Homo sapiens: one gene and its partners. The protein of the gene in region 1 purifies or fractionates together with the protein of each later gene. This does not show direct contact. Each region holds a gene or a part of one and is shown on either strand. Other genes may lie near its edges. The genes, in order: MIER2, PHLDB3, TFDP1, PEX14, ACAD11, EHMT1 and ZNF644.

The links.
Region 2: the proteins of MIER2 (region 1) and PHLDB3 purify together in Homo sapiens (affinity purification with mass spectrometry; 2 studies listed by BioGRID and IntAct, with this or other methods). This does not show direct contact.
Region 3: the proteins of MIER2 (region 1) and TFDP1 purify together in Homo sapiens (affinity purification with mass spectrometry; 3 studies listed by BioGRID and IntAct, with this or other methods). This does not show direct contact.
Region 4: the proteins of MIER2 (region 1) and PEX14 purify together in Homo sapiens (affinity purification with mass spectrometry; 3 studies listed by BioGRID and IntAct, with this or other methods). This does not show direct contact.
Region 5: the proteins of MIER2 (region 1) and ACAD11 purify together in Homo sapiens (affinity purification with mass spectrometry; 3 studies listed by BioGRID and IntAct, with this or other methods). This does not show direct contact.
Region 6: the proteins of MIER2 (region 1) and EHMT1 purify together in Homo sapiens (affinity purification with mass spectrometry; 3 studies listed by BioGRID and IntAct, with this or other methods). This does not show direct contact.
Region 7: the proteins of MIER2 (region 1) and ZNF644 purify together in Homo sapiens (affinity purification with mass spectrometry; 3 studies listed by BioGRID and IntAct, with this or other methods). This does not show direct contact.

The regions. Positions count from the first base shown.
Region 1 is NC_000019.10:338,297-341,796, reverse strand, and holds part of MIER2 (mesoderm induction early response protein 2), read left to right. Parts: exon of another isoform or gene 1-1,283; intron 1,284-3,500. UniProt on the Homo sapiens protein: Transcriptional repressor.
Region 2 is NC_000019.10:43,474,603-43,477,674, reverse strand, and holds the end of PHLDB3 (pleckstrin homology-like domain family B member 3), read left to right. Parts: intron 1-2,130; coding exon 2,131-2,265; 3' UTR 2,266-2,572; downstream 2,573-3,072.
Region 3 is NC_000013.11:113,633,253-113,636,752, forward strand, and holds part of TFDP1 (transcription factor Dp-1), read left to right. Parts: coding exon 1-33; intron 34-637; coding exon 638-781; intron 782-1,281; coding exon 1,282-1,350; intron 1,351-2,724; coding exon 2,725-2,876; intron 2,877-3,281; coding exon 3,282-3,448; intron 3,449-3,500. UniProt on the Homo sapiens protein: Can stimulate E2F-dependent transcription.
Region 4 is NC_000001.11:10,624,950-10,628,103, forward strand, and holds part of PEX14 (peroxisomal membrane protein PEX14), read left to right. Parts: intron 1-2,322; coding exon 2,323-2,414; intron 2,415-3,154. UniProt on the Homo sapiens protein: Component of the PEX13-PEX14 docking complex, a translocon channel that specifically mediates the import of peroxisomal cargo proteins bound to PEX5 receptor.
Region 5 is NC_000003.12:132,572,810-132,576,309, reverse strand, and holds part of ACAD11 (acyl-CoA dehydrogenase family member 11), read left to right. Parts: intron 1-383; coding exon 384-538; intron 539-3,500. UniProt on the Homo sapiens protein: Acyl-CoA dehydrogenase, that exhibits maximal activity towards saturated C22-CoA.
Region 6 is NC_000009.12:137,811,005-137,814,504, forward strand, and holds part of EHMT1 (histone-lysine N-methyltransferase EHMT1), read left to right. Parts: intron 1-456; coding exon 457-611; intron 612-2,001; coding exon 2,002-2,169; intron 2,170-2,381; coding exon 2,382-2,526; intron 2,527-3,426; coding exon 3,427-3,500. UniProt on the Homo sapiens protein: Histone methyltransferase that specifically mono- and dimethylates 'Lys-9' of histone H3 (H3K9me1 and H3K9me2, respectively) in euchromatin.
Region 7 is NC_000001.11:90,977,036-90,980,535, reverse strand, and holds part of ZNF644 (zinc finger protein 644), read left to right. Parts: intron 1-3,500.

The DNA of each region.
Region 1 (3,500 bases):
TTCTAGAATGCTGTTTACGCTTCCTTTGCTTTTTTTGTTGCCTGGAATACCGTTGGCCTGCTCCCCCTCTTTTTCCTGCTTCCACTTTGACAAAACAGAGGACTTTGTCTTTCCTGGGAGTGAACTCAGAGGGAAACATGCAGAGTGTTCTGAGTGAGTGAAGTAGAGTCCCTGGGAACCTGCTTTGAGAGTAGACTTGCACCTGGACACCAGGCAGGGGCAGCGGGAGGAAGAAGATCCATGAAGTCTGTATTCCGTGGTAAGTTCCAGGAACTCAGAGTCGCCTGGAAATGAACTTGGGGATCCCAGGCTGCTCAGGGCCTCCCTGTTAGCGGCCCTTTCTGCCGTTCCCAGCCGCTTCCCTCTTTGCCCCCCTCTGCCTTAGCTCTCCTGTTAAATGGCACGTCATATAAGGGCCAGATCCTCCTCAGACCCTGCAGACCACCTCTCCTGGGGCCATATGTTAACTCCCTGTTACTCGGTGTGGATCTCAAGCCTGCGGGACTGTTGTCAACTTGCCGTCCAGACTGGGGCCTCATTTGATGTGGTCGCCTGCCATCCCCTTGTTAGTCAGGCTCCTGGTTGCGGGAGTAGAAAGCCAGCCCCTGACTGAGGCAGGAACCGTTGCCCAGAGAACCTGTCCTCGACCCCTACCCAGAGGGTCCTAGAGGGGGCTGAGGGTGATTTCAGAGGTCACTTAGGATGCTTTCCCTGTGGCTTCACACCGCGTGTGGCTGTGTAGAGTGGTTGTGGGCTGGTGGCCACCTGCTGTGTCCTGGAAAGAGGTGAGGCCATCTCTGCCAGACCCAGGCCAACCCCAGGGCAGGAGGCGTGAGATGCCCCTGCAGCTGCCATGCACTCTGTGCTGCTTGCTTCCAGTCCCGTGGCCCCTTCCCCCTGGGGGCCCTGCTGGCTCTTCCTTCCCTCTGTCTTCTGTTTGCCCTCTGCCACCACGGAGCTAAACTTTCTAAAGCTGGATGGGTCCTGTCAGTCTCCACTTAGAGCTTGAGGTGCTCCTTGGTCCTTGGCAGCCTTGTTGCCAGAGTCACTCCAGGGCCAGTGGCTGCCCCAGCTCCCTTCCGTGGCTTTGCTGTACGTTGCTGTACAGTTGGCCCTTGAACCTCACGGGTTTGAACTGCATGGGTCACTTATACATGGATTTCCTTCCATCTCTGCCACCCCGAGACAGGAAGACCAACCCCTCCTCTTCCTCCTCAGCCTACTCAACGTGAAGATGATGAGGACGAAGACCTTTAGGATGATCCACTTCCACTTAATGAATAGTAAATACACTTTCTCTTTCTTACAATTTTCTTAATAACTTTTTCTGTAGTTTACTTTTTTTGTGAGAATACAGTACATAATACAATATATAAAATATGTGTTTATCAACTGTTGATGTTATCGGCAGTGCTCCCGACCAGCAGGAGGCTATTAATCAAGTGTCGGGGAGTCAGAAGTCATGCATGGGTTTTCACCTGTGTGGAGGGTTGGCACCCGTAACCCCTGCGTTGTTCAAGGGTCAACTGTACTAGCCGTTGTGTTCCCCAGTAGTGTGATGGGCTGGAAGGTGTTTGCAAGCCGCTGGCCTGAGCTCCACTTTGTAACTGCACCACTGAACCTGCTGTGTGAGCTTGGGTAACTGACTCTATCTCTTTGAGCTTGTTTCCTTGTTTTTTTGTGAGGGGAATGATTATACCACCTGTGAGGTTTTTTCTTGAGGACCCGTGAAGAAGTATTGAAATTCTTACTACACAAGTTTTTAAACTTCATTAAATATTTTAATCTACCCTTTTTGGCAGCAGCTTTCCCGAGGTATAATTCATTTACCATGCAGTTCACCGTTTTAATGTGTCCAGTTCAGTGGTTGTTAGTGTATTCACCCAGTTGTGCAGCCACCATCACAGTCAATTTTAAAACATTTTCATCACCCCAAAAGGAACCCCACACCCCTTAGTGGTCACTCCCCAAACCCCAGATCAACTCCCAGCCCCTTTCCACCAGGAATCCATTTTCTGTCTCTACGAATTTGCCTGCTCTAGACATTTGAGATTAAATGAGTCATACGACACGTGGCCTTTTGTGTCTGGCTGTTTCAGGAGCATGAGTCTTTCGAGGTGCGTCCATGTGGTAGTGTGTCAGTGCGTCCTTCTTTGCCCCGTTGCTAGTGCTTTGTTTTGTTTTTGTCAGCTGATGGATATTAGGACCCTGACCTGGGTCACATGGTTAAATACTATTTAACTTTTGGAGGAATTGCTGGACTATTTTCCAAAGTGGCTGCACTATTTTGACATTCCCACCGGCAGGGCACAGGAGAGTTCCACTTTGTCCACGTTCTTGTCAACACTTGTTACTGTCTTTTTGAGCACAGTTTTTATTCTCTGATTAGGAAGTGGTATCGTAGTGTGGACTTTGCTTGCTTTTGCCTGATATTACATTGAGTATCTTTTCCTGTGCTTATTGGCCATTTGTCTGTCCTCTTTGGAGAAATGTCTGTTCAGATCCTTTGCCTATTTTTCAATGGGATTCTCTCTTCCTTATTGAGTTTTAAACGTTCTTTATACTGAGAAGAAGTTCCTTATCAGATAGATTATTTTTCAGATATTTTCTCCTATTCTCTCAGTTGTCCTTTCACTTTCTTGGGGGCGTCCTTTGAAGCACAAAAGTTTTTAATTTTGGTGAAGTTGTTTATCCATTTGGTTTTTTTTTTTTTTTTTGGTCACTTGTGATTTTGGTGTCTTATCTAAGAAACCATTGCCAAATCCAAGGTCACAAACTTTTTTCCCACCACATTTTTAGATTCAATCAAAAGGTTACAAATATTTATCCATATATTTTCTCCGAAAAGTTGTGTGGTTTTGGCTCTTATATTTAAGGCCTTTGATCCATTTTGAGGTAATTTTTGCATATGGTATGAGATAGGGGTCCAACTTCATTCTTTTGCACATGGATATTCAACTGTCCCAGTACCATTTGTTAAAGACTGTTCATTCCTTCATGGAACTGTTTTGATACCTTTGTGGAAATCCAGTTGACTATGAATGTGTGACTGTATTTCTGGATTCTCAGTTCTAGTTCGTTGATCTTTGTGCTGTCCTTATGGCAGTACCACACTGTTTTGATTGCTGTGGCTCTGTGGTGAATTTTGAAATCAGGAAGTATTGTTTCAAGATTGTTTGGGCTGTTTGGGGTACCTTGAGCTTCCATATGCTTTTGAAATCGGCTCGTGGGTTTCTACAAAGAAGCCAACTGGGGTTCTGATAGACATGGTGTTGAATTTGTCAATCAGTGGGGGGTGTTGCCGTCTTAATGTTGTCTTCTCAGCCATGAACGTGGGATGCCTTTACATTCCCTTGGATCTTCCTTTCAACACTGCTTTGTTCACTCAGAGTACTGTACACATTTCACACTTCCCTTGATGCTATTGTAAATGGAATTGTTCTTTTTGTATTTGTTGCTTTTATATAGAAATAAAATTGATTTTTATGTATTGATTTTGT
Region 2 (3,072 bases), about 43 Mb from region 1:
CCCGGCTAATTTTTGTATTTTTAGTAGAGACGGGGTTTCACTGTGTTGGCCAGGTTGGTCTCAAACTCCTGACCTCATGATCTGCCCACCTCAGCCTCTCAAAGTTCTGGGATTACAGGCGTGAACCACCGCACCACACGTGGCTCTTTTTTTTTTTTTAGATGGAGTCTGGCTCTGTTGCCCAGGCTGGAGTGCGGTGGCGCCATCTTGGCTCACTGCAACCTCTGCCTCCCGGGTTCAAGCGATTCTCCTGCCTCAGCCTCCCAAGTAGTTGGGATTACAGGCGTGCCACCACAGCTGGCTAACTTTTGTATTTTTAGTTGAGATGGGGTGTCACTGTGTTGGCCAGGCTGGTCTCGAACTCCTGACCTCATGATCTGCCCACCTTGGCCCCCCAAAGTGCTCGGATTACAGGCGTGAGCCACCGCACCTGGCCTGTCACTGTTAATTTTCTTGGAGCAAAAGTTTTAGAGCCAAAATATGGCAGACTCTGATGTCCAACTGGGAATAAATGAATGGAGAGGTCACAGCAAGGGTCGGGCAGCCTGGGAGCATCTAAAGGAGATGATCTGCCAGGCGTCGTGGCTCATGCCTATAATCCCAACATTTTGGGAGACCAAGATGGGAGGACTGCAGGAGGCCAGGAGTTTGAGACCAGCATGGTCAACATAGCAAGATCCCATCTCTGTTTTTTTTTTTTTATTTTTTAAATGAAAAATAAATAAAGGAGATGGTTGTTAGTTGGCTCCTGCCAACAGTTGCCAAGTGGGAGTGGGTCCCATGGTGTTGTCTTATATTTATTTTTTCCCAGAGAACTCAGGAATTGGAACTTGTATAAAGCACAGTGCCAAAAATTTAAATGTTGGCAACTGATACAATATTTAGAAAGCTCTGTGGAGAATAACCAAACTGTGGCTTTTTAGCAATTAGGTTGGAATCTCAGCTATGTGACATCAGGAAAGTGACTTCCTTTCTTTAGCCTTTAGCCTTAGTTTTCTTTGTTTCTTTTTCTTTTTTTTTTTCTTGCTCCATAGACCAGGCTGGAGTGCAGTGGTACAATCATAGCTCACTGCAGCCTCTATCTCTCGGGCTCAAGCAATCCTCCTGCCTCAGCCTCCTGAGTAGCTAGGACTATATGTGTGTGCCACCACACCCAGCTAATTTGTTTTGTTTTGTTTTTCTGGTATTTTTTTGTAGAGATGGGGTCTCCCTCTGTTGCCCAGGCTGGTCTTGAACTCCTGAGTTCAAGCAATCAATCCGCTTCAACCTCCCAAAGTGCTGGGATTGCAGGCGTGAGCCACCCAGCCCGGCCGGCCTGAGTTTTCTCACGTGTAGAATGGGTACGCATCAACCCATTCCATCAGGGTTATTGAGAGGGCTAAAAACAGATTATGGACATAAGGGATTTACTCAATTTGGGATTGGCAAGTGGGTACTCAAATAACGGATTCTAGACACTAACTTTTCCCAGGTACAAGGGGACCTAGATTTTGGGGAGGTGGAATTTGAATGCCTGTATTTCTAATATAGGAGAAGTTAGGCTGAGAGAAGGCGTCATAAGTCCTACTTTTAAATTTCTCGGCCTGGCACAGTGGCTCACGCCTGTAAGCCCAGCACTCTGGGAGGCCGAAGCAGGCGGATCACGAGGTCAAGAGATCGAGACCATCCTGACAAACACTGTGAAACCCTGGTCTGTACTAAAAATACAAAAATTAGCTGGGCGTGGTGGCACACGCCTGTAGTCCCAGCTACTCGGGAGGCTGAGGCAGGAGAATCGCTTGAACTCGAGAGGTGGAGGTTGCAGTGAGCCAAGATTGCGCCACTGCACTCCAGCCTGGCGACAGAGCCAGACTCAGTTTCAAAAAAAAAAGAAAAAAAATTTATCTTGCCCCTAATTTATCAATAGCGCTCTACATATGATAATTTTAAGCACTTCCTTGTGTTAATTCATTTAATCCTTATAACCCAGTGAGGTAGGTGGCATCATTTGGGAAGACAGGGAAACTGACATTCAGATACTTAAGTACCTTGTCCAGTGCCACACAGACTATAAGTAGCAAGGCTGGGTTCGCACCCAGACTGTGGCCGGTGTCTTTTGTCTGAATTACCCTCACTTTCTGCTTATTCCAGAGCCCCAACCCCCGCCTGACCTTCTGCGTCAAAACCTACGAACGCCTTTTCTACATGGTGGCTCCGAGCCCCGAAGCCATGCGCATTTGGATGGACGTCATCGTGACCGCCGCTGACGAAAACCACGCCCCCTGAGTGGCCCCGCCCTCTTGGGGGGAAGTCCCTTCGAGGCTCCGCCGGCGCGGGGCGCGGGGGCGTTCCTAGGCCCCGCCCACTGCCGGAAAACTTGGACGCACCGCTTTGGAACTCTCCCGGGAATTCCGCAGGCGCGGCAGTTCAGCTGGCCTGAGCTGCTGCGTTCTGGGTTGCAGGTGCCTTGCCCCCGACGGGATCGCCGGCCCCTAAGGCCCTGCCCGGGGCAGGAGGAAGATTGCAGGGGCGGGAAGAAACTATTTATTGGTGCTCCTGTGATACCGAATTAAATACGGAGGAAAAACAGGAATTGCTGCTGTGGTTTCCAGCCCAGGCATCCGGGGCCCCTTGACCCCTAGGCAGGACATCTGAGTTATCGGTACCTCTGGGAGCCACGCGTCCCACAGCCGGCTCTCTAGGAATGGAGGCCTTCAACTCTTAAGGTCATAGCTGGGAGAAGAGGGTGAGAGGCATGTCCCCCTTAGTGTTTGGCAGTTTTGCTTTTTTAGTTTGTAGGCCCTTCTGTTTCCACCCTTTCTGGCCTGACCGGCTGCTGGAAATTTCTAGGAACTCCTAGGCTTCCCCCCTTTAGGCCTTTGCCTACGTTGTTCCCTCTGCCCTTTTCTTCCCTTTTTTTCTTTTATCTATTTATTTTTATAGAGATGGGGTCTCACTGTGTTGCCCAGGCTGGTCTCCAACTCCTGGACTTAAGCGATCCACTCACCTTAGCCTCCCAAGGTGCTGAGATTACAGGTGTGAGCCACCACGCCTGGCCCCCCTCCTTCCCTTAATCAGCTGCACCTCATTCTT
Region 3 (3,500 bases), on another chromosome or scaffold:
GCTGCCGACAACCACATCTTACCAAACGAGTCAGTAAGTGTGTGCCGGGGGCCGAGAGGCTGGGGTGGCGGAGCCCAGCGGTGTGGTACGTTTCGCTCTTTTAATATCGGGAACAGTTAAAACCATACAGAAAATGCCAAGTACAGCATAAAAGAATTTTTACCAAACGAGTCAGTAAGTGTGTGCCGGGGCCGAGAGGCTGGGGTGGCGGAGCCCAGCGGTGTGGTACGTTTCGCTCTTTTAATATCGGGAACAGTTAAAACCATACAGAAAATGCCAAGTACAGCATAAAAGAATTTTTCCGATCCATTTGCTGGCACGATGCTTTGTCAACTCCAGTGAGTGAGCACGTGGGCTGGCTCTGCACGTCTAGCGGCCCAGAAATGCACAAATGCCCACCTCACCAGCTGGGCTCGACACCCGAGAGCCCCCGGCTCTCCTTCTGGAACACACTCAGGCTTCGCACAGCCCCGTCTTGCCCTGCGTCATCTGTGGGGTGGGAGCGCTCCCTGAGGGCATGTTGGGGTGGCGGCTCCGTGAGCGGGGTGCCCCTTTGAGCCAGTGCCCATGGTCTACAGTTTAAGGATCCACCGGCCTTTTTGGATCATTTGGAAACTCCACTCCCTGTCATCCCCAGGCTTATGACCAGAAAAACATAAGACGGCGCGTCTACGATGCCTTAAACGTGCTAATGGCCATGAACATCATCTCCAAGGAGAAGAAGGAGATCAAGTGGATTGGTCTGCCCACCAACTCGGCTCAGGAATGTCAGAACTTAGAGGTGCCCCTTCAGCCTTCCTTCAACCTTGATTTCCCTTCAAGTCCGTGTAGATGTTTTAGTCGTCGGTCACTCAGAAGGGTCTGGGCTCCGTGCCCTTATGCTCTCTGTGTCCGGCTGGCAGACGGTCATGCAGACGTCTCCCTGCGTTTCTCAGTCTTGGCTGTCAGGGGAGGGAGCATGGTTGGCCCAGACCCACTAGAGTCTGTTAAACTCTAGTGTAGGTTAATTCTGAATCCTAGTTTGTGGGATTTTTGTTTTCTTTTTAGATACCATAGTTAAATCCAAGAAATGAGAGGAAAGGGGAGAAGGTATAGTTTAGAAATGGAAAAAAAACTCACCTATATCTTGTAGCACCTGCTATGTCTAGATTTGTCCATATCCCTTCGATTACATTCTGGGTAAACATAGGTAACACTGTGAGGATGTGAGGATGTGGGTTTTAAAAAACGCTCTGTGGAACAGTTGTGATGATTCTTCACATGGGTGGTTTGTTTTTGAAGGTGGAAAGACAGAGGAGACTTGAAAGAATAAAACAGAAACAGTCTCAACTTCAAGAACTTATTCTACAGGTAAGAGAATACGTATCTGTGGAGGCAGGGTAATTTTTATTTTACTAATTTAGCTTTATAACGGCAACATACTGCCTTGGGTTACACTCCTGCATGGCAAATCAAATGACTGCTCTAAGATTCTGAGTGTGAGTTCATCTCATAGGTGTTGAACGTGGGCCTTATTCCCAGAGCGAGGTTGTGCACGTGCGTGTGCATGCATGTGTGTGTGCGTGCATGCATGCATGTGTGTGTGTGTGCATGTGCCTGTGTGCGTGCGTGCGTGTGCCTGTGTGCGTGTGCATGTGTGTGCGTGCATGTGCCTGTGTGCGTGTGTGTGTGTGCATGTGTGCATACATGTGTATGTGTGTATCTCTCGTCACAGCATCTAAATAGGCAAAAGACAGATGGAGGGATGACTTCATGCAAAAGCAACATTTGAAAAATCTCCTCAGAGGTGCTTAACCCAAGGCCCAGGTGCCAGGCAAGGCCTGTAAAACTGTGGTGGACACAGTGCACCTGGGTCTTGACAGTGCTGATCAGGGCCCTGGAGCTGGCCTTCCCCACCTCCCATTGAGTGCTGAGGGTGGGCGGCACCACTGGGGGCCCCGTGTCTGGTGTGGAGGGGGTTGTGTGCAAGGTGCTCACTGCAGAGCTGGCTGCTGCCCTGACCAAGGTGTGCTCGAGCCCTCCCAGAGGGGACGGTGTGGCAGCCGTGGTGATGGAGGCTCGTGGGCAGGAGCTCCTCAGGACCCACAGAGTGTCAGGAGGGACAGTCCTGGTTGCCAGTGCCTTAGGACCTGCCAGGTGGGGATAGACCCAGGGTGGCCGGGAGAGGAAGGGAATCTCCTGGCTCTACATTAATAGCAAAGAAGGTCTCTCCAAGTGGAACACTTGGTTTGGGGCCCTGAGGCCCTGGCCCTGGATTCAGCCTTGCAGGGCCTATTCCCCCAGAGGAGCACCCCTGCAGCACATGGGCCCTTCTGCGTTCCACTTTCCAGGGTGGGCAAAGTCCACGGCACGGCACCCCCTCCAAGGCCATCACCCTGTAGGTGCCATGGTGGTAGGTGGTCTTAGAGGGGTGAAGGACAGCAAGGAATCGACTTCCAAAATTGGTGTTTTGTTGAGCGCCGTTGCCGTGGAGGACACTTTTATCAGGGCACGGATGGCTGTGCGCCCGCTTTCCCTTAGTTCTCCCCTCAGGATCCCGTTTCCTGAGCGCTTTTCTCCCTGGGCTGCAGAGGTCAGCACCCAGCGGCCGGCGCTGGCATTTCAGATGTCCAGGCCAACTCCTCGCTGTCACGTGGACGCAGGGAGGGCTGTGAGGACCCCTCGAGCACAGGGGCTGCGTTCTTGTGCCGCCACGGGCCACCTGGCTCCTCTTATTTTTTTTAGCAAATTGCCTTCAAGAACCTGGTGCAGAGAAACCGGCATGCGGAGCAGCAGGCCAGCCGGCCACCGCCACCCAACTCAGTCATCCACCTGCCCTTCATCATCGTCAACACCAGCAAGAAGACGGTCATCGACTGCAGCATCTCCAATGACAAGTAGGTTGTGGGCGGGGAGCTGTTCCCTGGTCACCCATCTCTTTTTTAGGGAGCCGACCCTGTTGGTATTGTCACTAGGACAAGTTTTAAATGTTGTACAAATAGCAAATGTTGCACAAATTGCTGTCCATTGGGGGGTGGTGGGAGGCTGCCGCCATGTGGCAGATGGAAGGTCTCTGTTCCGGGAGCGTGTGCCTTAGGGCATGTCCTCCTGGGGAGAATAGGCCTCGATTTGCCTCTCATCTCATTTACTTCAGAGTTTATAAATTCTGTGAGGAGACACTGATGACTGGGAACCGGGAAGCTGTGTGTGGCGGTCAGCGGGTCAGCCGTCCTGGCTCCACCCCAGTGTGTACCGTCTCCGCTGGGAGACCCTGTCTTTCTGACTGTGCCTTTCCCCTTCAGATTTGAGTATCTGTTTAATTTTGACAACACATTTGAAATCCACGATGACATAGAAGTGCTGAAGCGGATGGGCATGGCTTGCGGGCTGGAGTCGGGGAGCTGCTCTGCCGAAGACCTTAAAATGGCCAGAAGTCTGGTCCCCAAGGCTCTGGAGCCATACGTGACAGGTCAGCAATGCCCAGACAACCTGGCGTGGCTGTGTGAGGAATGGCCCCCAGC
Region 4 (3,154 bases), on another chromosome or scaffold:
ACCAACTCCCAAGGCAGTGTCCTTGCCTCACTGCCCAAATGTGAAGAAATCTTGGCGTGGCAGCTTCCAGGATCAGGCTGAATCCTGGTCCTGCCACTTGTTAGCTGTATGACCACAGGCAAGTTACTTAACCTCTCTGAGTCTTAGTCTCCTCATCTGTAAAATGGAGCCATAACGGCACCTAATTCCTGGGGCTCTTCATGGGTTCAAGAGGGTGCCTGGCTCCAGCCAGCTCGCAGGATTGCAGGCCTAGGTTCTGTGGGTGGGTAACAGAGGTCATCCCTGAGGCGGTATCAGACAGACCGGGCCCAGGAGACAGTGGCCTGGTAGCTCCAGAACACCCACTGGCTCCTCTCTCTGTCCCTTGTCCCACAGCTCTGTGGCCGGCGGACACTGCTCCCTGTCTGCCCCCACAGCCTGGGCTCTGGAGAGTCCCATCCCGAGTTGCTTACCCAGGGAAAGCCACTCCTAGCGTACGAGTTGGCTTGAGCCAGCACTCAGATCTTTTGCATTTGCAAAAACCATGAAAATGACAATCTTTCCATGGAGTCTGGGGTGTCTCTTGTGAAGAGGGTCCCAGGAATCTCCCCCCTGGATATCCAAACCACACACAGAGGTGCCACCTGCTCTTCCTCCTGGGATGGCTGTGGGTACTGGTGACCACCTCCAGCCACTGCAATGCGTGTTCTCCACGGGTGGCCGGTCCCTAAAGCACCAGGAAGCCCAGCGACAGCCCTGCCTGCTCTCCTGGGTCAGGTCATCTTTTGGATCCATGCTCTGCCTGTGGCCAGAAGCCATTCCGGAAATTGGAAAACTGTTTTCAGGCCTTACGCCTGAGATTAAGACCACATGTTGTGTTTAAGAAGCAGTGGGGGCCCGGGATGTGCTTGGTGGTGAGAGGGGTTGGGCCCCTCAGAGTCCCTCGAGCTGGCTTTGCTGCCGCTGTCCCTGGCCCACCCCAGCCTTCTCTCCCGAGCTGCATGGGGCCACTGGCTTGGCATCTAAACGCGTATGTGTGAGGACTTTGGTTACCCCATAAACCAAAGACCCAGAGCTGTGTTTTCTCAGCTGTAATGTAAGTTTTTATATCTGGCTTCCAAACTCCTACTGGAGCACTGTAAAAAATTAAAAAGAAGAGCTTTAAGTAATTAAAAAACCTACATAAAACTGAAGGCTATGAGTTTTCTACAACTGTTTTTTAAAGAGGCTGGCTAAAAAGCCCCAGATGTCAGATTTTATTTCTAAATCCTGGCATCTGGCACCATATGCGTTTGGAAATCTGAGTCCCTTGTAGGCCAGTGAGTGGAAATTGTGCCCTTGTTCATGGGCTGCTGTAGCTTTCAAGGTCTCAGAGAAGCCAGAGCCGTGGCTCCTGGGTCCTCCCTGTCTGGCGGTCTGGAGTAGGAACCCTGAGGGGCTGTGTCTGGGGGTGGTGGGTGACACGCACTCACTCTCAGACTGCCCGGGTTTTCCTTCCTGAGACCTACAGGCCCTCTGAAGGACTTCTCCCTGCTAAGGTGTGCCAGCTGGACTGCTTGCTGGGGTGAGCCCACAGCAGCCCCCGACCCCACGTCAGAGGCCAGGCCTCTGTAAGCCAGCCAGCGGCCCACAGCACACTGGTAGGGAACAGCCAGGGAACGTCCCCTCTGCCCACCTCGGGGGAGCAGTATCAGGAGAGCTGGCAATATTCATCTGTGCACTTAAAGATGGCCTGGGGTGGCCTTCAGCCTGGGCGAGGTAGACCTCACACGGAGGCCTCGTGGCATTGTCCTCTGTGCACATGCCACAAGCAGGTTGCCACCAGCAGCTCGCATTTGGGGACCTCTGGTTTGGCTGTCCTCTTCCCCGTCTATACCAGCAAGATTTTCCAGAAGTAAGATGTAGTTCTGTGAAGTTTATTTGGAAAACAGTGTTACCTTCAAAGGGGAAAGGTGTGCATGGAAGGATGGGGTTTGTCAGAGATGGTGGCTGTTTCCTCTTTCCACCCCGGACCATCTTAAATCCCAGACATCATCCCACTTCATACCGCACCCGCACGCCTCCGCATGTCTCTAAAAGACGCCCACGATACCATTATGTCACCTAAAAACACGTAATGATTCCTTACGTCATCAGATGTCCAAACAGAGCTGTGGGAATGTTTAAGGATGTTGTCATCCAGAGACGTGGCAGGCAGTGGGCAGTGGCAGAACCTTCCCCCGGGTTCCCCAGAACAGACCCAGAAGGCCCCACCTGCTGCCCCCACCCAGGTCCTCCTGCAGCCGCAGGCCCCGCCCGTGCCGCAAGGCGCCCGCCCTGAGCCTCCCTGTGCTCTGCTTTCAGGCCACCACATCCACCAACTGGATCCTGGAGTCCCAGAATATCAACGAACTCAAGTCCGAAATTAACTCCTTGAAAGGGCTTCTTTTAAATCGGTAGGAGGGAGGAATGGGGACCCTGTTCTGGTCGGGCCTGGAAAGGAGGACTGGGAGCTCTGGGGCATGGGAGGGGCATGACGCCCACCCCCACCCCCAAGGACCCCATCTGTCTGGGCGACTCAGGCACTGAGTCTGGGGCCTTTTGAGCTTCTCTCTTCATTCCCCAGTTGACACCCTCTCCACTCCAGAGGTGACGGTCTGTGGCACACAAGTTTTGAAATACAGTTCCCAGGCCTGTGAAGACCTGGTCAGGGACAGCTTGAGCCAAAAAGCAGGGCCCTTGGAGCAGAGGAGAACTTCCTGGTTTGGCTCCTCCTTCCTGAGCTCCAGGTGACCACTCAGTGACAGCTTTGTCCCAGGGAAAGCCCCTGCGGGAGAGTCTTTGTGTTTTGTACTTGGAAGGGTTCCACAACTGAAGACGTGGGCAGAAGCAGGCCCTGCCCCCCGGCTTCTTGGTTGTCCCCCTGTTGTCCCTCTGTAGCGACAGCACATTGTCACCAATGCAGCCTCAGAGGTAGGGTGACCAACTTGTCCTGCTTTGCCTGGGACTGTCCTGGTTTTATTTATTTTTATTTTTATTTTTTTTTGAGATGGAGTCTCGCTCTGTTGCCCAGGCTGCAGTGCAGTGGCACGATCTCGGCTCACTGCAACCTCTGCCTCCCGGGTTCACGCCATTCTCCTGCCTCAGCCTCCCGAGTAGCTGGGATTACAGGCGCCCGCCACCACTCCCGGCTAAT
Region 5 (3,500 bases), on another chromosome or scaffold:
CAGAAAATCTCTTCTTCCTTTGCCTTTGTTTCTCTCTGTATCTCTTACCCTTACCCACTCTTCTGGATTCTAAACTCCTAGTACAGGGACTATGTGTTATTCCAACTTTGTATCTATTGCAGCATTAATAAAATAGCTTATGCATAGTACATACTTAAGAGACAGTTCTGAAATTTGAAATGTTTAATGGTGGTGGTTTTAAAAACATAGAAATCAAAATTCCCATGAATTCATAGTGAACCTTATTATAGAACTGACTTTTTTTCACTAGAAAGCCATTTTTATTAAGGGCAGCTCATCTCTTTCCCAGGATTTGTATAAATAACAAAAGGAATGGGCTAGGCCATTTTCACATTCCCCCTTTTTTTCCCCTTTCTTCCCAGGTGAAGGTAGGGGATTTGAAATTTCCCAAGGCCGCCTTGGACCTGGCAGAATCCACCACTGTATGAGAACAGTAGGTTTGGCGGAACGCGCTTTGCAGATCATGTGTGAGCGGGCAACACAAAGGATAGCTTTCAAGAAGAAGTTGTATGCACATGTGAGGACGATTACTTATTTGAATTTATTGTAGCCCGGTGCACTACACTAACATTGAACAAAAACATTACTTGTGAGAGACAGACTTTCTCTACATGAACCGGGTGATTCTTTTCAATAAGGCATATTTATGTCTGTATTTAAATATAGTCTAATGAGAGGTATTTATCTTTATGAAAAATTAAATAGTTCCTAAAATGCTTCAACACCTCTGCACACAAGAGTGTAGACAGTTCCTTCAACTTTCTCAGATTCTTGTTCTTTAGAGAACCTGGAACATTAGAGCTCCCTGTGGACATGAAGGAGCTGTCATAAGGAAGAAGGATTTGCCTTGTCCATTGGTTTCCTAGAAGGAATTAGGACACATAAGTGTAAAGTTACAGGAAAACAGCCCAAAACTCAGGGAAAGGAGAAACATGCTAATAAACCTAAAAGTGGAATCAGCTTCTTCAGGAGGACTTGAATTCTGTCACTGGAGAAACACAAGTAGAAATGGGACCAACATTTTGTGAGATATTCATGACTTTTTGAATTATCATCTGTAAATTATATACTACTGAGTCTGTTGTTACAAATCACTGTAAACATAGTTACATGTGGCCCATATAATAAAAATTAGGAAATATGGCCAGGCGCAGTGGCTCACACCTGTAATCCCAGCACTTTGGGAGACCGAGGCGGGTGGGTTGCCTGAGCTCAGGAGTTCAAGACCAGCCTGGGCAACATGGTGAAACCCCGTCTCTACTAAAATACAAAAAAAAACAAAAAAAATTAACCAGGCATGGCGATGTGCACCTGTAGTCCCAGCTACTGGGGAGGCTGAGGCAGGAGTATTGCTTGAACCCGGGAGACAGAGGTTGCGTTCAGCCAAGATCGTGCCACTGCACTCCAGCCTGGCGACAGAGCGAGACTCTGTCTCCAGAAAAAGAAAAAAAATTAGGAAATATGTATTGAGATGAAATAGAAGGTATTATTTCAGACTTCCTTAAAAAGTCTTCTACAGAGAAGTAGGATATCCACATCATCTCCCTTCTAAGTTTTAAGAAGGCAAGAAAAACTATTATTAAATGTTCACTCTTTATTATTGCTAACATGTTAGTGTTAGGTCAAATCTGTGGTGATGGAATTGTATTTGTGTTTGCTGCACATGTATATTTTAGTATGTCGGTCTCCTTATACATTTTTGACCATCTTATGAAATTTGCAGTATGTATTTTTTACCTTAAATTATTATAATCTATGTTTGCTTTTTGTAAAGTATTATTCAGCATTATATGATTTATTTGTATAGTTTTTTAACTGAAAAGCTACAGCCCGCTTTATGACACTACACCTGGGAATAATTTGTCAGGAGCCCTTTTAGTATACAGCGAAGGCAAGTTTTTAGTATACAGCAAAGTTCAGCTGTTGGCTGGGCACTGTGGGAGGAGGTGAGAAAGTGTGACCCTCTGGGGCCCTGGATACAGCCTCTGATGCTGTTGAAGAAGGATGAAGAGGTGCTCAGGGCACCAACCATTACTTCTTACCCTTTTGTCAAGCTTGCATGCAAACTCTGGAGCAGGGTGAAGGGAGGACACAGTAAAGTCGACAAACAAGCATCGCGAATGCACAAAAGCCCTCTGTGCAAGTGCTGCTTTCCTGAGTGGTGTTTTAATACTGCATTAGTAAAAAATTTCCCTTCCACCTTTTAAAGTTAATGTGTCATGCAGAGCAAGCCTGGCTTTTTAACAAATATGCCTGTTTTCACTGGAAACTTTTCACATCTGGCACAAATAACGTGATCTGGCAGAAACAAAAAGATGTGTGAGCATGTCATAAGCAAAAATCTGGGCCAGCTTTTTTATTTTAATTTGTGAAAGGAACATTTCATTTCTTTGAATTTGGAGGCTCCTTCCAGCTGCCTTCTAATTTACTCCAGGCTGTAACGCAAAAAATTCTCCATCCCAGTTCTGTCTTAGGAAATATATTTGGCAGTTCCCTAGAGCACCTAGTTTCTACCCATTTAATGCTTTTCAGCAAATCTAGGGTCTATAGAGACCCAACTGAGAATACCTCCTTTATTCTAAAGCTGAGAAGTAAATGTCTTCTAAGTCTGTTCATGAAGTTATAAAGTTGTAATTATCCTGTTTTACAGCCATCAAAAAATATTTATTCACCACCAGCAACTTGTTTGAAATTAATTCAGAGCCATGTTTCAACCTCTAGGGCAGTGCCATCCAAAAGAAATATACTATGAACCTTAAATGTTATTTTAAATGTTCTAATAGCAACATTTTTAAAAAGTGAAAAGAAAAAGATGGAATTAATTTTAATAATATATTTTATTTAACCCAATATATCAAAAATACTATTTCAACATGAAATCAATATAAAAATTATTAATGAGATACTTTATATTTTAATATTTATTCTTCAATATGGGGTGCATATTTTATACTTATAGTACATCTCAGTTCAGACTAGGTATGTTTCAAATGCTCATTAGCCACATATGGTTAGTAGCTATCATGTTGAACATCACCGCTTTAGGGAAACTCTAATCAAATATCCCCTGTTGAAGGGCAAACATGACCAAGCATAAAAATGGCCAAGGTGTGCATGTTCTCACTCATAAGTGGGGAGATGAACAATAAGAACACATGGACATGGGGAGGGGAACAACACACACCGGGGCCAGTTGGAGGGTGGGGGCAAGGAGAGGGAGAGCATTAGGACAAATAGCTAATGCATGCAGGGCTTACAACCTAGATGACGTGTAGATAAGTGTAGCAAACCACCATGGCACCTGTATACCTATGTAACAAACCTACACATTTTGCACTTGTATCCCGGAACTTAAAATAATAAAGAAGAAAAGAAAGGAAAATAAAAGGACAATTAAACGTCAAAAAAATGGCTAAGATGTAAGGAAGGTGCGCAGTTTCAATCCCCTGCAGATGGCTAGCAAGTTATCCCAGCACCAT
Region 6 (3,500 bases), on another chromosome or scaffold:
ATTTTAATTTAATCAAATTTGCACGTCCTTTTTTCAAATCTTTCAAAAGCATTATCCTATCCTATGACTATACCCCTGCTTGGAAATGAATATAATTTTTAAAAATACATGAAAGAAAAGTGCCTCCAAGTGTTAATATGTTGAGTGTAGGTTGATATAATTCTGGATGACCTTTTCCCTATTTTTATTCTTTACTGTGATTATGCTACTTTTATAATTATGTTATTTTTACAATGAAACAAACAAAACATGAAACGAAGTGCCTTCCAGAGTTGAGATGGGCGCTAGGTTCCCATCCGGTGACCTGTGGCACCCTTTCCACCTGGCCCTGCTGCGGACGGCCACGCATGCTCCAGAGCCTCTCCCCGGGCACATGGGCTGCAGCTGCTGTGGCCCAGCCCCAGCACTGTGAGCCAGCAGGAAGCCTGCACTGAGCTCTGGCTTGTGTCTGTTCAGGAGGAGAACATTTGCCTGCACTGGGCGGCGTTCTCCGGCTGCGTGGACATAGCCGAGATCCTGCTGGCTGCCAAGTGCGACCTCCACGCCGTGAACATCCACGGAGACTCGCCACTGCACATTGCCGCCCGGGAGAACCGCTACGACTGTGTCGTGTGAGTGCAGTGCTTCCCCCAGCGCGGGCTGGCGCTGACCTGACCTGGGCGCCCAGAGAGACCGCTTGACAGTCTTGTGTTCACACTTGGGGCGTGAGTGGACACAGGCCCTCTGTTCCTTCGTGTGGAAGTCCATCCTTGGTGTTCCACACGCAGAGAAGTGTCTTTCCCAGTCCACGTTTGAGATCAGCTGTGGTTTATTTCTGGGTTAGGGAGGATTGTCATGAAAAAATTCCCAAGTTGGAGTCTCAGACCTGATACTCCTCACATGGCTGAGGGGCAGCATGGGAACAGCCCTGCTCCCAGCAGGGACCTGCCAGCTCAGAGTCCCCGAGAGGCTCAGGGTGCCTTCTGGGAGCAGTGCCACCCACAGCCAGGGCTGGAGTTGCTGGGGGCTGTGGCACTCGCCACTCAGGGCCCTTTTAAAACTTGAGACCTTCAGCTGGGTGGTGGTGGCTCACGCCTGTAATCCCAGCACTTTGGGAGGCTGAGGCAGGCAGATCACCTGAGGTCAGGAGTTTGAGACTAGCCTGGCCAACATGGTGAAACCCCATCTCTACTAAAATACAAAAATTAGCCGGCCATGGTGGCATGTGCCTGTAACCCCAGCTACTCCAGAGGCTGAGGCAGGCGAATCGCTTGAACCCAGGAGGCAAGAGATTGCAGTGAGTGGAGATTGCGACGCTACACTCCAACCTGGGCGACAGAGTGAGATTCTGTCTCAAAAAAAACCCAAAAAACAAAAAAAGCTTGAGACCTTGATCCCATAAAGTCATCCACACTCAGGTTGTTGTTGGTGGCCTGGGATGGAGTGTGTGTTTGGCTGCTGGGGAAGGACAGGGAACTGTGGGTGCTCCAGGCACCAGCCTCCAGTGACTCCCTGGCCCCTACACATGGGGCTGTGCCCTCCCACATGTGGATCTCACGGTGGCTCAGCCAGGTTGGTCATCTGGTTGTGTGAAGCCCAGCTCCACGTACGATGACTGCAGTCTGGATGCAGTGAGCAGGAGTGGAACTGAGGACTGCTCACGCTGTGCGTGGCCCAAGCTTGGCCTCTCTCCCTCCTTGCTTCCCTTCTTATCCTTGAGGGTAAATTTGAATGAAAAATCCAAGAAAAATCAAATGCCGCCCTGGATTTTACACTCTTCCTGCTAAGAAAACAGCCTGCTGACTTTGACAGTGAATGTGGGAGAGGAGGAAGGGAATCATGTTCCTGGGTGAGCTAAAGCCCGTCTTTGCAGAGTCATTGCTGAGCAGACTTGTTCAAGTTATCTCACAGTGAATAGTGTTCCCTTTATTGTTAGTGATGACGGACATTTTATAAATCTCATCTGTATCACATTTTCAAGTCAGCTTTAAATGTTTTGTGGCCTTACATTTTCCCTTTTAGCCTCTTTCTTTCTCGGGATTCAGATGTCACCTTAAAGAACAAGGAAGGAGAGACGCCCCTGCAGTGTGCGAGCCTCAACTCTCAGGTGTGGAGCGCTCTGCAGATGAGCAAGGCTCTGCAGGACTCGGCCCCCGACAGGCCCAGCCCCGTGGAGAGGATAGTGAGCAGGTGAGCCCAGCCCCAGGACGGCTTTGTGGCAAATCAGCGGTCAGCAGGGCTTTGGGAACTTGCGGTGAAAGCTGCTCCTGAAGCCGAAACATCCCCAGGCTGCAGTCCAAATTGTCAGGGCCAGGTGTTTGCCAGCCGCCCCACTGCACGCTGTGCCACCCCCTGGGCAGAGCACGTCAGCCACCAGGTGACACCTGTCCTTTCCATGGCAGGGACATCGCTCGAGGCTACGAGCGCATCCCCATCCCCTGTGTCAACGCCGTGGACAGCGAGCCATGCCCCAGCAACTACAAGTACGTCTCTCAGAACTGCGTGACGTCCCCCATGAACATCGACAGAAATATCACTCATCTGCAGGTGAGTGACGGCAGATGAAGGGCTGACTCAGGCCAGGACATGGGACAGGCAGAAGCTTCTTGAGCCTGGGGTCCTGGGTTCTCACCACTCAGAGCAGGAGGGCTTATGGGGGGCTTCCCAGGAAGACCTCATTCTCTTTGTAGTTGCCTCCCGTGAAAGAGCTGGAAGGCAGATAAAGGTTCTGTCAGGCCCAGCCCTGGGCCCTCTCATTGCTCTTCCAAGGCTTCTTACCGACCCAAAGCAGTGGCAGGCATCTTTGTGCCTTTTTTGTAACCTCACACTCAGGGGCCCCGGTGTGGCTTCGTGCTGGGGGCACAGGCGAGAGGAGCCCTTGCGAGGCCTGCAGGACGACCTGGATCCCTGCACCTCCCAGCCCCCGGAGAGATGGGTCCAGCACATGCCAGCTTTCCCAGCCTCCGAGTGCATGCAGCCTGGTGCCCTCACTGCTTGCGCCTTCTCGAGCACTTTCCTTGTGGCTCTGCTTGTGGGCAGCTCCCTCCTCTTCCCAGGCCGGGCACTGCCCAGGCCCCCCCCCCCCCCCGCCCCCCGCCCCACAAGGTGTGTCAGGCTCTGTGTTCTTGCCTTTCCCATCGAGCATCTGGCCACAAATGCAGCCGCCGCCCAGCCCTTCACCCACCCCACGTCACCCACTGCCGCGTCGCTGCCCTGCCTGCCCCCTGTCCCTCTGTCAGGGTCCTCAGCCAGAGCTCCCTCCCACAGGCACTCGACATGTTTCTGCCTGCACAGCCTTCTCCCTAAGAGGCCACACACTCACGTGGTGCCTTTGAGAAGCACTTACCAGAATCAGGGTTAACAGAACTGGAAGACGTAGTTGTGACTGGGAGGGGAAATGGAAGGCCTGTGCCTGCACGTCTGACCCCCCGGCGCCTCTCTTCTCAGTACTGCGTGTGCATCGACGACTGCTCCTCCAGCAACTGCATGTGCGGCCAGCTCAGCATGCGCTGCTGGTACGA
Region 7 (3,500 bases), on another chromosome or scaffold:
ACTTGCTAACTTTTTTATACTCTTTTCCTTCTTCTACCTGTCTCTTTAATTGTCCCCCATCACTTTCAGAATAAAATGTAGTAAACCTTATAACACGGCATGCAGTTATCTCACCGTAGCTATGCCAGAATGCTGAGGATTATATGAATAAACTAAGTATGATGTTTCATATTCCTAGTTCTAGTCCTAGGTACATGTTGTCACTTTCCCTCAATCCCATGCCTCCCCAGTTGCCAGAGACCTCTTTGCTAGTTGTCAGCTTATCTTCTGAAATAGCCTATCTGAAGCATCATCTGATCCTTTAAGCCATGCCTGGCCGTAGTTTGTCTTCTTTATTAGAGTATGAGTTTGAAGGTAGATACCATCCATGTCTCGTTTATCTTAGCACAGTGCTGGGAATACTGTGTGCATTCAGTAAATGTTTTGTTAAACATTGACCAATGAAAAGAGTTCTCCCAGGCAAATAGAGATTCAGAATGCTAGCTGGAATGGGATGGGGGCATTGGCACTTGAGTTGCTGTTGGGCCATAGGAAGGAGCCACTGAGGATAATCCACAGACAGCATTATAGACATTTTAGAAAGAGAAATAAAATATTTCCCAAGTCTTCATTCAATCCAGTTGAAATACAGTGGCTAGTAAAATATTCTTAATTCAGACCTAAAGTAAGACTGTCATTGTTGATTTTGATTAGTATTTCCAAGTGGAGGTATTAATCCATGTTGCAGAAATTTGAAGTGTTTGCTATGAAGAGTATTTTCTTTGTGGGTTTGTACTAGTTATTTCTTTAAAGATTTTGGAATGTTAGACTAATACAAGTAGAAGATTGGGAACACTAGTCACACGTGTAAGAAGTGAAGAAAACTTTTCCTTATTTCTCTGAAGGTAAAAAACTGTTAGGATGGAGGAAGAAATTGTAGAATCATAGCCTGGAACTGTGATAACATTTTTGATTCCCACAGCTTAGGAAGCTTGCTATTTGTTTAAAGGTACTTAAATTTTTTTAAATTGTAGATATGTAATGTAGCATATATAAACTATATACTTTTTTTGTTTTGTTTTTGAGATGGAGTTTCGCTCTTGTTGCCCAGGTGGGAATGCAATGGCACAGTCTCAGCTCACTGCAACCTCTGCCTCCCAGGTTCAAGCAATTCTCCTGCCTCAGCCTCCCAAGTAGCTGGGATTACAGGCATGCGACACCACACCCAGCTAAATTTGTATTTTTTAAGTAGAGATGGGGTTTCACTATGTTCGTCAGGCTAGTCTCGAACTCCTGACCTCAGGTGACCCACCCTCCTTAGCCTTCCGAAGTGCTGGGATTACAGGTGTGAGCCACTGCACCTGGCCTAAACAATATACTCTCTTAAGAAATAACACACTTCTTAAATTTTAAAGCATTTTGACTAGTGGTTCTTTTTTTTTCTGTGTTTGAAATTTGGCTAGTTGGGTTGGCTATAGTAATCATCTGGAGATTTTTATGCCTGAAGCTTGATTGCCCTCTAGCAAGTCCAAAGCAAGAAGAGGTTCTTCCCCACAGGGATCAATTTGTTGCTTTTCCTTTCTGCAGCTTCTGCCATAATGTTTGAACACAGAGTTAGACGTTGACATTTTCTCATGCTGTTCCTTCTGTCTTCCCACAAGGGTTTTCTTAGACATAGATTCTTACCGTATATAGACCTTGGTTCTTTTTTTTTTTTTTTAAATCCTGATTGTGAAGTGTGTTTAGTCATGTTGTTGGTTAGAGTTGAGGAGCCAGAGAAATTTAACCTTGAGATTGCCTAACTTACATGTCTCCACAAAGACTTTAGACTAATTTTTCTTCTCAGAGGCTGCTAGCTGTACCTCCGTTGCAGAGTCTTCGTCTTCATTTTGTGCTTCAATATTTAACATAGGCAGCTGCTGCTAAGACTGCAGAATCCCCGAATCCAAGGATTTGAAATTCTTTATGGATATTTGTCTTAGATTAATTTCTCTAATTTCTAACTTAACCTCTCTGTACTTCAGTTTCTTTAGTAGCATTGTAGATGTGCTGCCCTTTGTTGTAGCATGAAAAAGAAGACTTTTTAATTAATAAAATTCTTTGTCCTTCATTCTAGATGAGATTGTACAACGTACATTGACCCTTTCCAGCTGTATTGCCAAGTAACAGTTAGTATTTAGTATTTCACTTTTTTTTTTTTTTTTAAGACAAAGTTTTGCTCTTGTTGCCCAGGCTGGAGTGCAATGGCACTATTTTGGCTCCCTGCAACCTCCGCCTCCTGAGTTCATGCGTTTCTCCTGCCTCAGCCTCCTGAGTAGCTGGGACTATAGGTGCATGCCACCACACCTGGCTAATTTTAGTATTTTTAGTAGAGATGGGGTTTCACTGTGTTGGCCACGCTGGTCTCAAACTCCTGACCTCAGGCGATCCACCGGCCTCAGCCTCCCAAAGTGCTGGGATGATAGGCGTGAGCCACTGCACCTGGCCACATTTAGTATTTTCAAAATATAAATTTTTTATAAAAGTCACATGTGACCTTATGAGCAAATAGTACAGCAATGTTTAAAGTAAAAAGTAAAACTCTTCTCTCCCACCCAGCACTATACTCCCCATAAGTTACCAAAAATAGCTGGTATGTATTCTACATCTTTTTCTTTCTGCTTATCAATATATTTTGGACATTTTTCCATATATTTACCACATTTATTATAACTGTTACCTTATTAATATTTAGGTAAGTCTCAGGATTTTTTGCCTGTATATAAGTACTGCTGCAATAAATATTTTTGATGGTATTAACGGGAGTGTGTGAGAGTGTCAGGATAATTTGTAGCAGTAGATTGCTGGATCAAGGATATGTGCCCTTTAACTTCTGATGTAATAAAACTGCAATGAGGTTGTACCACTTAATACTCTTATTGCTAGTTTATGAGAATATCTGTTTTCCCACATTCTGCTAAATATTTGTTTTATCCTTGCTAGTCTAATTGGTGGAAAGTGGTATTTATTTTACTGGGCATTTTTTAAATTGTGAGAGTGCTCAAAGGTTTGAAATATCACCTTCATTACAACTTAAGTTCTGTTGGAGAATATATGTGAAGATTTTTATTTTTTACTGTTAAGTCCATCAGTTCCATCAATTAACATACCTTTGTGTTTTAGGTATTACAGTCAAAGTTATTTAATATTGAATAATCAGATTATTTGCCTTTTTTTCCCTTCATACTATTTTTTTAGGATAAATATTTCCTTATGGTAAATTTCTTTATAGTTTGCTACAAACTAACATCAGCATAGCCTGTAAATAAAAAGAAAATAAAAGCCATTACTAAATATTAGGTTCATTAAGTCTAGATTGATAGCAGACTGCTTAAAATCTGATGTCTTTTACAACGCAATCATTAGAATACTTTGCTTCTTTGTGGTTATTTTTTACTATCCTTATTATGTATGATAAGCTACAGTTGTTAGTCTTAATTCCAGCTTTAATGTGAGTGAACTCCTTTTTTTTTTTAAGTATT